Linked DNA regions of Homo sapiens: region 1 is linked to region 2. The links come from fine-mapping of genetic effects on gene expression. A gene starts in region 2. The other region holds a variant in brackets. All regions are shown on one strand. Distances are from middle to middle.

The links. PIP is the estimated chance that this variant, and not a neighbour inherited with it, causes the effect.
Region 1: its variant is the best candidate, but not a certain one, in a credible set for the expression of GSTT2B in caudate (GTEx, PIP 0.81).

The regions. Positions count from the first base shown.
Region 1 is chr22:23,994,860-24,000,230 of GRCh38, forward strand. It overlaps GSTT4 (glutathione S-transferase theta 4), which reads right to left. Exons shown (of 5, transcript NM_001358664.2): 4 at 5,216-5,371; 5 at 3,542-3,880. The coding sequence ends at 3,683. Among named protein-coding and RNA genes, the nearest start is that of GSTT4, 7.9 kb to the right of the region's middle. The variant C/A (reference allele first, on the strand shown) is at 2,581.
Region 2 is chr22:23,958,611-23,963,981 of GRCh38, forward strand. GSTT2B (glutathione S-transferase theta 2B) reads right to left here and starts at 2,585. Exons shown (of 5, transcript NM_001080843.4): 1 at 2,410-2,585; 2 at 1,684-1,771; 3 at 1-91. The coding sequence starts at 2,521. RefSeq lists an enhancer at 806-1,471.

The sequences.
Region 1 (5,371 bases), 36 kb after region 2:
TACCCTTCCCCTTGAAGAACTTGTTTCTTCATCTACAAAATGGGCATAATACTACTACTCATCAGGGTGGTTGTGAGGATTAAACAAGGTAAGAGATGTAAAATTGCATGTTAGTTATCAGATAGATTTGTGTTCCCATCTAGCTCCAATGAGGGAGAGGATTTGCTCTAGTCTGTCCCTCTGGGCTCTGGGCTTCTAATGGGCAGACAGCTTCCTCCATGATGTTTGTAGCTGTTAAGGCTGGCGTAGTCCCTCAAGACAAGTTTTTTTTTTGTTTGTTTGTTTTTTTTTTGAGTCAGAGTATCGCTCTGTCACCAGGCTGGAGTACAGTGGTGCGATCTTGGCTCACTGCAATCTCTGCTTCCCGGATTCAAGCGATTCTCCTGCCTCAGCCTCCTGAGTAGCTGGGATTACAGGCATACGCCACCACACCCAGCTAATTTTAAGACAAGCTTTTGGAATTGAACTGCTGATGGTCTTCCATGAACAATTCAACAGAAACCCAGTAGCGTACACTTCCTTGTATGCACTTGCACCCTCTCTTTACATTTATTACACATTTAATGCTACCTAATAATTCCCTATACTTTTACTTTATCCAATCGTTCAACAGATTCCAACCGAAATACATAGAAGAGTGATATTCCAACTTCATCAGACCCTGAGATTCTATTTTTAACATTTCTTCCATGGATTGTTGAATGTTTCCAATGATTGATCCACCTTCCCTTGGCCTTTTCTACATTACAGATTTGGTGGCATGTCCATGTCTATGTTGCCAAACTTGCCTCATAGACCCAGCTTGAACACAAGATGGGTGCTTGCTGAAGAGCAGGACTCATTCTGTTGAACCTGCATGTTTTCTCAGGTCAGATTGCTTGGTGGCGCTTCTTTAATTTCTTTCAACAGCACATTGTAGTTTGCTGTGTTGAAATGTTGCTTTTCTTTGGTTAAATTTATTCTATTTTATTCTTTTTGATGGTATTATAAATGGAAGTGTGGTTTTAATTTTGTTTTTCATCCTTTATTGCAAATGTATACTATTGATTTTTGTGTATTAATCTTGTACCCTGCAACCTTGCTGAACTTATTTTATTTTATTGAGATGGAGTCTCAGTCAGTCACCCAGGCTGGAGTGCAGTGGCTTGATCTTGGCACACTGCAACCTCCACCTCCTGGGCTCTGGTGATTCTCCTGCCTTTGCCTCCTGAGTAGCTGGGACTACAGGCATGCGCCACCACGCCCGGCTAATTTTTGTATTTTTAGTAGAGACGGGGTTTCACCATATTGGACAGGCTGGTCTCAAACTTCTGACCTCATGATCTGCCCGCCTTGGCCTCCCAAAGTGCTGGGATTACAGGTGTGAGCCACCGTGCCCAGCCTTGAACTTGTTTATTAGCTCTAATGGTTTTTAAGTGAGTTAAGAATTTCTGTAATGTCATCTGTGAATAGAGATGGTTTTACTTCTTTCTTTCTGATCTAGATTCCACCTTGTTCCTTTTTCTTGCCTAATTGCCCTAATAAGTAGAAGTAGTGTGAATGAACATTCTTGTCCTGTTCCTGATCTTAGGGGGGAAACGCTTGATCTTTCACAATGGATGAAGTATGGTGTTAGTTATAGGTTTTTCATAGATGCTTTTTGTCAAGTTGAGGAAGTTCCTTTCTCGTCTTCATCTGCTGAGTAATTTTATCGTAAAAGGATGTTAGGTTTTGTCAAATGCCTTCTGTGCATTAGGATGATCATGTGACTTTCTATTAACATGGTATGCTACACTGATTGATTTTTGTATGTTGAACTGCATTTGTACTCCTGGGATAAATCCTACCTGGTCAAGGTGTATGATCCTTTTAATATGCTGCTGGATTTGATTTGCTAATATTTTGCTGAGGATTTTTACATCTATATTTATAAGGATATTGCTTTGTAACTTTATTTTCTTGTAATGTCTTTTTCTGTCTTTGGTATCAGAGTAATTCTGGCCTCATAGTATGAGTTGAAAAATATTTCTTCCTGTTTTATTTTTTTGGAAGAGTTTGTGAAGGCTTTGTGTTAGTTCTTCAAGCTTTTGGTTGAATTCACCAGGGAAGCCATCTGGTCCTGGGCTTTTCTTTGTGGAATTTTTAAAAATAATTAATATTTTAATCTCTTTATTTGTTACAGGCCTATTAAAATTTTATCTTTCTTCTTAAGTCAGTTTTGGTAGATTGTGTGTTTCTAAAATTTTCCCATTTCATCTAGGTTGTCTAAATTGTCCACATATAGTTATTCATAGTATTTCTAAACTTTTGAATTTCTCTATGACCAATGTGATGTCTCCATTTTCTTTCTTTCTGGTTTCCATTTCATTTTTTCATTTTTGTTTTTGTTTGTTTTTTGAGATAAGGTTCTTCTATGTGCCCAGGCTGGAGTGCAGTGGTGCAATCATAGCTCGGTGTAACCTTGAACTCTTGGACTCGAGTGATCCTCCCACCTCGGCCACCCAGTTAGCTAAGACTACAGGCTTGCACCACCACACCAAGCTAATTTTTTTAAAAAATATATTTTTTAGAAAAAAGTCTCATTGTGTTACCCAGGCTGTT[C/A]TCAATCTCCTGGCCTCAAGTGATCCTTCTGCCTCTGCTTTCCAAAGTGCTGGGATTGCAGGTGTGAGCCATTGCACCCAGCCTCCACTTTCTTTCTTGGTGAATAATTTGACCCTTATTTTTTTCACTTGGCTATTCTAAGTAAAGGTTTGCCAATTTTGTTGATCTTTGCAAAGATCCAATTTTTGGTTTTATTGATTTTATTGCTTTTCTATTTTCTATTTCATTTATCTCCATTCTAATCTTTATTATTTCCTGTTTTCTAGTGGTGTTGGGTTGAGTTTGCTCTTATTTTTCTAGTTCCTTAAGGTGTAAAGTTAGGTTATTGATTCAAGATCATTCTTCTTTAACTTATGTGTTTACAGCTATAAATTTTGCTCTTAGAACTGCTTCTGCTGCATCCTATAAATCTGGGCATGTTGTGTTTTCATTTTTATTTGTTCAGGATACTTTTTGATGTCCCTTGTGATTTCTTCTTTAACCCATTTGTTGTTTAAGAGTGTGCTGTTTAATTTCTATGTGCTTGTGAGTTTTCTAGTTTTCCTTCTGTTCTTGATTTTTAACTTTATTCCACTGTGTCCAGAGAACATACTTTGTGTGATTTCAATCATCTTAAATTTGAGACTTAGGACCAAATATATGCTCTATACTGGAGAATATTCCATGTGCTCTTTAGAAGAATGCTTATTCTGCTCCTGTCGGGTGGAACGTTCTGTTCATGTCTAGTGTATGCGATTGGTTAATCGTGCTTTTCAAATTCCCTATTTCCTTGATGGTCTTCTGTAGTTTTTCTATTACTGAAAGTGGGGTATTGAAGTCACCAACTATTATTACTCACAATGTAACCATATTTAACCCTTTACTTTTAAAATTCTTTTTGGAAACTGGAAGGATCTGTAACCACCACCCACTCCCACATCAGACCCTATGCATATGCCAACTGTCTGCTGCTCAGCAGCTGTGATGGTTGTTCCAGTTCTTTATTAGGCAAAGAACAGTTGTTTTTTTGTTTTTTTGTTTTTTTTTTTTTAACATTTCCTTTAAGGAAGGTGGCTCAGATTGCTAAGCCAGCCAGGCCCTGCGGGACAGGCTGCGCCTAGGGTCACCTGCTCTTCTTCAGCAACTCAGAAATATTCTCCTTGACCATTGAATCCAATGTTGAAAAGTCCCAGTCGGCCAACTGCATTAGTCGATCATGGGCCTCCCTAAAGAGGCCAGAGCCAATATTCAGCTCCACCTGCATACGCCACTCAGCTAGCTTGGAGCTGTTGAGGAAGACATTATAGTTGGCTGCCATGGGCTGTAGATAGACGAAGACAAAGACGTGGTCAGCCTGGGGACCAGCCCCACCTGGGTCCTCTCCCACAGCCTCAGGCCCACGTCCCTAACATCTACCTATGCAAAGAATTAGGCTGCTGACCCCCAAGGCCTGAGCAAGGGGTCACAGACTATGTAATAGATGTAGGTGGGGATGGAGGATCCAGAATCCCTCAGAGTCCTCAGTCACTGGTCTTCTTGCTCCAAGCCTTCTGAACCATGCTGAGAGGGCTCCTGGCCCAGGCACTTCCCACTTCTCCAGCCTGCGACCTCGCATGAATCCTGCCTTCTTCCAGGGAGACCCCTTATCCCAGGTGTGTATATGTGGATGAGGGAGAGAACTCAGGTTTTTTCCTCCATGTTTAGCCTCCCACTGTGATCAAGCTCAGGGGCTAGGATGGGAGACCTGGCGGGCAGTCTACCCTGCAGTTTCGCTGGCTTACTAAGAGTTTGGTTTGCACCCAAGATCTTTGGGAAGCCCAAGAATGGGTGTGTGTGGGTGAAATGTAAGGGGTGGGGACGAAGCATATGGCTGAACCCTTGGGGCAGGCCAGAATGATTTTTCCTGGTGCTGGTCTGCCCTGCAAACAGACCAAGGAGACTAATTTTCATATCAGCCAGAGATCTCTGGGATAAGGAAAAGAATACTGCATTTTCTGGTCAATCCACCAGGACCCCAGGTCCCTCCTCTCGGGCATATCTCTGGCTGATATGCAAATTAGTCTCTTTGGTCAGTGTGCAGTGCCCTAGCTGGTGTGCAGGATGGCCAGTTGAGACCCTGGCCAGTGTCTTGACAAGCAGAACTGGTCACCCTCCCCTGCATGTAGAGGCCACATAAATGCCCCACACTCAGGTGTGCCTCCAAATGCACAGTGGATGCCCCTCAGACCCAGCCACGAGAGCTGTCCTCCAGAGCTGTCTGTCTGGAGCTCTGGGAAACAGGCAGGGCCAGAAGGACACCCAGGAAGCCAGTGAACATTTCCTGGAGAGTCCAGCAAGAGGAGGAGGTATCTGGGATGCCGGTGGATTGAGCAGGAAATGCAGTGTTCTTCTCTATCCCAGGCTCACCCTCCGGGTCCTCCCACACCGAAGAATCTTTGTCAAGTGTGGAGAACTGTGATCCTTCCTGATTCATAACATTCTGTGCTTCCTGTTGCCCCGATTGAGTCCAGGCCCCCAGGCCTGGTTCCCGCAGCCCCCATGGCAGCTCTGCCTGCCTTTCCCGCCTCACCAGCCTATCCTCAAGTGATGGCCCCATTGGTCACAGAGGAGTCCTACCTCTGCCCAGGGTCTAACCCTCCTCCAATCCACTCCACACCTGCATCATCTCCACCACGGCCACCAGGTCAGCCAGTGAGATTTGGTTCCCGGTGATGAACATCTTATCCTGCAGAAAATACTCCTCAAAGAGCTGCAGGCTGTTCTTCACCTCTTCCACTGCATGCTCCATCTTCTCAGCTGAAACTTCCTCCCC
Region 2 (5,371 bases):
CTCATGAACACGGGCACGAGCCTGCAGGTCAGATGGATACCAGTGGTCCGGCGTCTGGTACTTACAGCTCAGGTAAATCAGGATGGCCGAGCTGGGAACAAATGGGCAGTGGCTATAAGGACACTGGCACCAGGCATTTACCCCTAACTGCTCCCATCTGCCAGTGGGGCCCGGGGGCTTCTCTGCATTTGAAGGACTGCCCTCCAGCCTCGCCCTCCATCTCCAGCTCCCCAACACCACCCCCTCCTCCTACGAGTCTCCTCCTGTCTTTGTTGCCTTGGGCACCGACTCTTGGCTGGACCTTCTGCTTTGCATTTTGAGAACCTCATCTCTGTGATATGCCAGCAGCCGCCCTGTGAGGTAGACACTCCTGTTAGCCTTTTAGCACAAGAGAAAACTCAAGGTCAGAATGGTCAAGTGACTTGTCCGAGGCGGTGCAGCTCAGAATAGGCTCCCTGGACCCCTGGAACCCTGCATGGGGCTGGCACACAGTGGATGCTCCGTGGAGTCCCTTGCATGTCCACGCGCTTGGGTCAGGGATCACGAGGGGAGGAATGTCTTTGGCCCCCGTCTGACAGGCCCCCAGCCATCACTTCTGCAGCCACCTGACCTCTTGTCCTTTTCCTGCCCAGCAGCTGGACCTCACCATGAGCTGTGCCCTTGGGCCATGGCATTGGCCTCTAGGCCCGGCCTGGGTAGATTGGGTAGTCTGCAACAAGTCACTAGAGGCTCTTTTCAGCTAGCATTTGTTGAACAAATGCGCAACAGTGGAAAAATGTTCCCTTGTCTTCTCTTCTAATACCCTTCAGTCTGGGAGTGGAGAGGCCCTGCGGCTCAGAAAAGGCTGGAAGATGAGAGGTGGGGGGACATGTTCTGTCAGCCCCTGCTCATCCCGGTCACACCCCAAGCTGTACCTTCTCCCCAGATACCTCTCCTTTCTTTCTTTCCTTTTTTTTTGAGACGGAGTCTCCCTCTGTCGCCCAGGCTGGAGTGGGCTCCCTCTGTCACCCAGGCTGGAGTGCAGTGGTGCTATCTCTGCTCATTGCAAGCTCCGCCTCCTGGGTTCACGCCATTCTCCTGCCTCAGCCTCCCCAGTAGCTGGGACTACAGGCGGCCGCCACCACGCCCTGCTAATGTTTTGTATTTTTAGTAGAGACAGGGTTTCACCGTGTTACCCAGGATGGTCTCGATCTCCTGACCTCGTGATCCGCCCACCTCGGCCTCCCAAAGTGCTGGGATTACAGGCGTAAACCACCGCGCCCGGCCTTTTTGAGACGGAGTCTAGCTCTGTCGCCCAGGCTGGAGTGCAGTGGCGCGATCTCAGCACACTGCAAGCTCCGCTTCCTGGGTTCACACCATTCTCCTGCCTCAGCCTCCAGAGTAGCTGGGACTACAGACGCCCGCCACCACGCCCGGTTAATTTTTTTTCCATTTTTAGTAGAGACGGTGTTTCACGGTGTTAGCCAGGATGGTCTCGGTCTCCTGACCTCGTGATCCGCCCGCCTTGGCCTCCCGAAGTGCCGGGATGACAGGCGTGAGCCACCGCGCCCGGCCAGATCCCTCGCCTTTCCCCTCCCTCGCTGCCCCATGGGGTATGGGAGGGCCACTGGGGCCCGGGGCCAGTGGGGAGAGCCAAGGTCACATGGGCTCCGGATGCGGTGAGGGGTGAGGGAAGGAGGGCACCTTTCGGTCAAGATGAAATCACCATCCTTGAGCGTCGGCAGTTTCCCCAGGCTGTTGATCTGCAAGAACTCCTTGCTCTTGTGCTGCCCTGAAGAGGAAGAAGTCAGAAAAGGTCTTCAGAATAAAAACGCTGCACCTCTACACCCTCCCTCCTCCTCCCCAAGCGGAGCCCCACAGCCCTGAGAAACAGCAAGGTCTGGGACTAGAGGCCTGGATCAGCCTCACTCCCTGGCTGGGCCTCCCTGCCCTGCCACATTCCGGGGCAGCTGGGGGGCTTTGGTGGGTGGGGCCAGGTGCAGCAGGTGGATAAAGAGAAGTTTTCTAGCCGGACTCTGGTGGGCCAGGGGAGGGGAGGCAAACTGGGGTGGCTCATCTCTTCCCATCTCTTAATTCTCACAACAGCATGTCCTTCTTCCCAAGGTCTTCTGGGCTTTGTGAATTTATATGCGTGCATTCCACGCAAGAACTCTGTCAACTCCATTCAGTATTTTCTTTCCATCCCTACAGAGCAGAAGGTAACATTATCCTCCTTTTCAGAAGGCAAGCTAAGGTTCAGAGAGGCTGTGATCCCTCCAAGGCCACTCAGTCCACAGCATTCTCTGGTGGCAGACGCTGCAGGAGGAGGTGAGGGGGCTGTGCGGGCGGCGAGACGCTCAGGGCAGAGCAGGGCGGGGGCCTGGGGGTGCACTGGGTTTGTGGACACGCGGGGAAACGGGCTGGGCCCACCTTTGACCAAATCCACGGTGCGCAGCTCTAAGGGGATGCCATTCTTCTTGGCGAAGATGTAGACGGCGCGGCTGGGCTGGGACACCAGGTCAAGAAACAGCTCTAGGCCCATGGCGGGGGCGGCAAGGACAGCGGGGATGGCAGTGAAGGCGCTGAGCGCGGTGTGGGCAGCAGCTGTGGCAGGATCCCGGCGCGCCGGGAAATAGGGGATCAGGCCCCACCCCCTGGGGACAGCACCCAATTGGAGCGCACCACCCCCGGACCCGCCTCGCCCCTTCGGTTCCTGTCCAGTCCTGCCGGCCAAGACTCCACCACCAGATCCGTGCGTCCCTACAGGGAGGGCGGTCGCTATGAACGCACAGCTGGGAGGGTGGAGTTGGAGCTGGGGACCCTCGACTGGCAGGGAGGACGCGGATGCAGGGGGCCGACTGCAAGGGGAAGGGGAACCGGCTGGACAGGGAGAAGCAGGTCTGCTTTTCGGGATCCCGGTGCCAGGGACCCTGCCCAGTTCCAGGCGTCGCCCTGACCCAGAAACGACTGGGCGCCGCCGTCCTGGAAAGGCCCCAGCGCACGGACATCTGAGGGTTCGTTCAGAGCTCTGTTTCTCGGCGCTGCATGGTGGCGGAAGGGAGGGAGCGAATGGGATCCCCTAAAAGGGATCTTAGAGTTTCACCCAGTGGGATGTGACACTTGCAGGTGTCCCAAACTGGTGGGAACCTTGACTGGAAGGCTGGGGTTAAGGATGAACTTTCTGCCGTCCAGACTGTCCCCTGCAGAGCAGCTGCTGCCAGACAGCGGGAGCTGCCAGACAGCGGGAGCTCCCACTTCGTGCACAGGATGGGGGCAGGGAGCCCGCAGCCGCGGGAGGCAGGAATGACTGTCCGGGAACCTCCTTTCTTCTCCCTGAATCCCAGCCCTGGCATCTCACCAGGGGGCACAGTGATGGTCCAGGGCTGGGCCCGGGACTCTAGCTGAATCTTTCAGAGTATCCCATCCCTCTGGCCAGTGGCCCAAGCGAGTGAACCAGAATGCTTCCTTGGGAGTTTTGAAACTGGAACTGGAGAGAGGAGCTCCCTATGGGGAGGTAAACGGGAGCTGGGGCCACCTGTAGTGACATTTCCTGAGTTCGAGGAGTAGACGAGACTGAGAGAGAAAAGCTGACTCAGAGAAAGGGAGTGATAACAGGGCATGCTGGCCCACACCTGCAATCCCAGTTACTCTCACGGGATCTGTTTCTCTGATGTCTGGGTATGAAAGGACTTTCTAAGCCTCAGAACAGTGGGAGAACTCAACAAAGAAAAAACCAATACATATACAAGGTTACTTTGTGGAGGAAAAAATGGATTAACCTTAAGCAAAAAACTGGGAAGGATCTCGGTAAAAGATACGTCAGAAGGAAGTAATGTCCTTTAAGATGTTCTTAGAAACCCATCAGACAGGTAGGGTGTGGTGGTTCACGCCTGTAATCCCTGTACTTTGGGAGGCAGAGATGGGCGGATCAGTTGAGGTCAGGAGTTTGAGACCAGCCTGGGCAACACGGTGAAGCCCCGTCTCTACTAAAAATACAAAAATTAGCTGGGTGCGGTGGCACACTCGGGAGGCTGAGACAGGAGAATCACTTGAACCTTGGAGGCAGAGGTTTCAGTGAGCTGAGATCATACCACTGCACTCCAGCCGGGCCACTGAGCGAGACTGTCTCAAAACAAACAAACGAACAAACAAAAAGAAGAGAAACTCATCAGACGAAGACACAGGAAAAAAATGAGCGAAGGAAATCAGCAGAGGTTTCATTGAAGGACAAAGAGAAATGGTCAATACATGGATGAAAACATGTTTAACTTCAGTAATAATCAAGGAAGCACACACCAACACAACATGCACATACTGTTTTTATTTATCAAAGGCACACATATTTTTGAAATGAGTACTCCTAATTAATATGTACAGAGCACTTACCCAGTGCCCAGCACAGGGGTGGCACCCTGTGTGTGAGACAGCATGAAACAGGTAGACACGCGCCCTGCTGAAAGTAAGGGACCGCCTCTCTGGAGGATCCATCGGGCAATAAGGAGGTTTCCACACCTTAACTGTGTCTGCCTTGACCTCTGGGGCCTGGGAGCAGAGCCCCCTCCAGCTGGTGGGGAAGGAAGCGTGGTGTGTTTGAGGACAGAATGGAGAGAAGTTGAGTAGAGCAAGTGTAGACTCTTCCTATCCAAAGTGTGGTCAATGGACTGGGAGTATCAGCATCACCAGGGAGCTTGTTGGAAATGCAGAGGCTCAGGCCCCACTCTGACCTTACTGATTGGGAGCATAAACTGTAACCAGATTCCAGGGAGGATTCATACACACATTCCCGTTTGATAAGTGGGGGGTAGTAGGAGGTGAGGTGAAAAGTGGGGAGGGGATGGCTACCGCACTGGAGAAGGCTGGCTTTGTGTTGAGGCCTTTCTCATGAGGGCAGTGGGGAGCCATGGAAGGCTTTATGCAAGAGAGGGTACGGGCAGATTGAGATTACAGAAGGATCCCACTGGTTGCCTTGTGTGAGGACCCAGGGAGAAGGGGGAGGCTGTCCCTGTTTGAGTAGGAGATGAGAGCTACTGGTGGCTATGAGTGGAAAGAAGTGAGCAGAGGTGAGCAGAAATCCCAAGGACTGGTGATGATAGGATGATGGTGGGAACCAGGATGGGCTTTGGGCAGACCCTGACCCCTCTCTCTGCCTGTCGGCCCACCAGATAATAATCCCTGTGTTCCTGGGCGAGTCAGTGCCACCCGAGATGTTGGCGGCCACTTTGGCTGAGCTGGACGGATGCTTGCAGCTGCTCGAGGACAAGTTCCTGCGGGACCAGGCCTTCCTTACTGGGCCCCGTATCTCTGTGGCTGGCTTGGTGGCAATCACGGAGCTGAGGCATGAGAGTGCCATGGGGTGCGGTGGCCCGCTGGGCAGTGGTGTATCCGGGAAGGG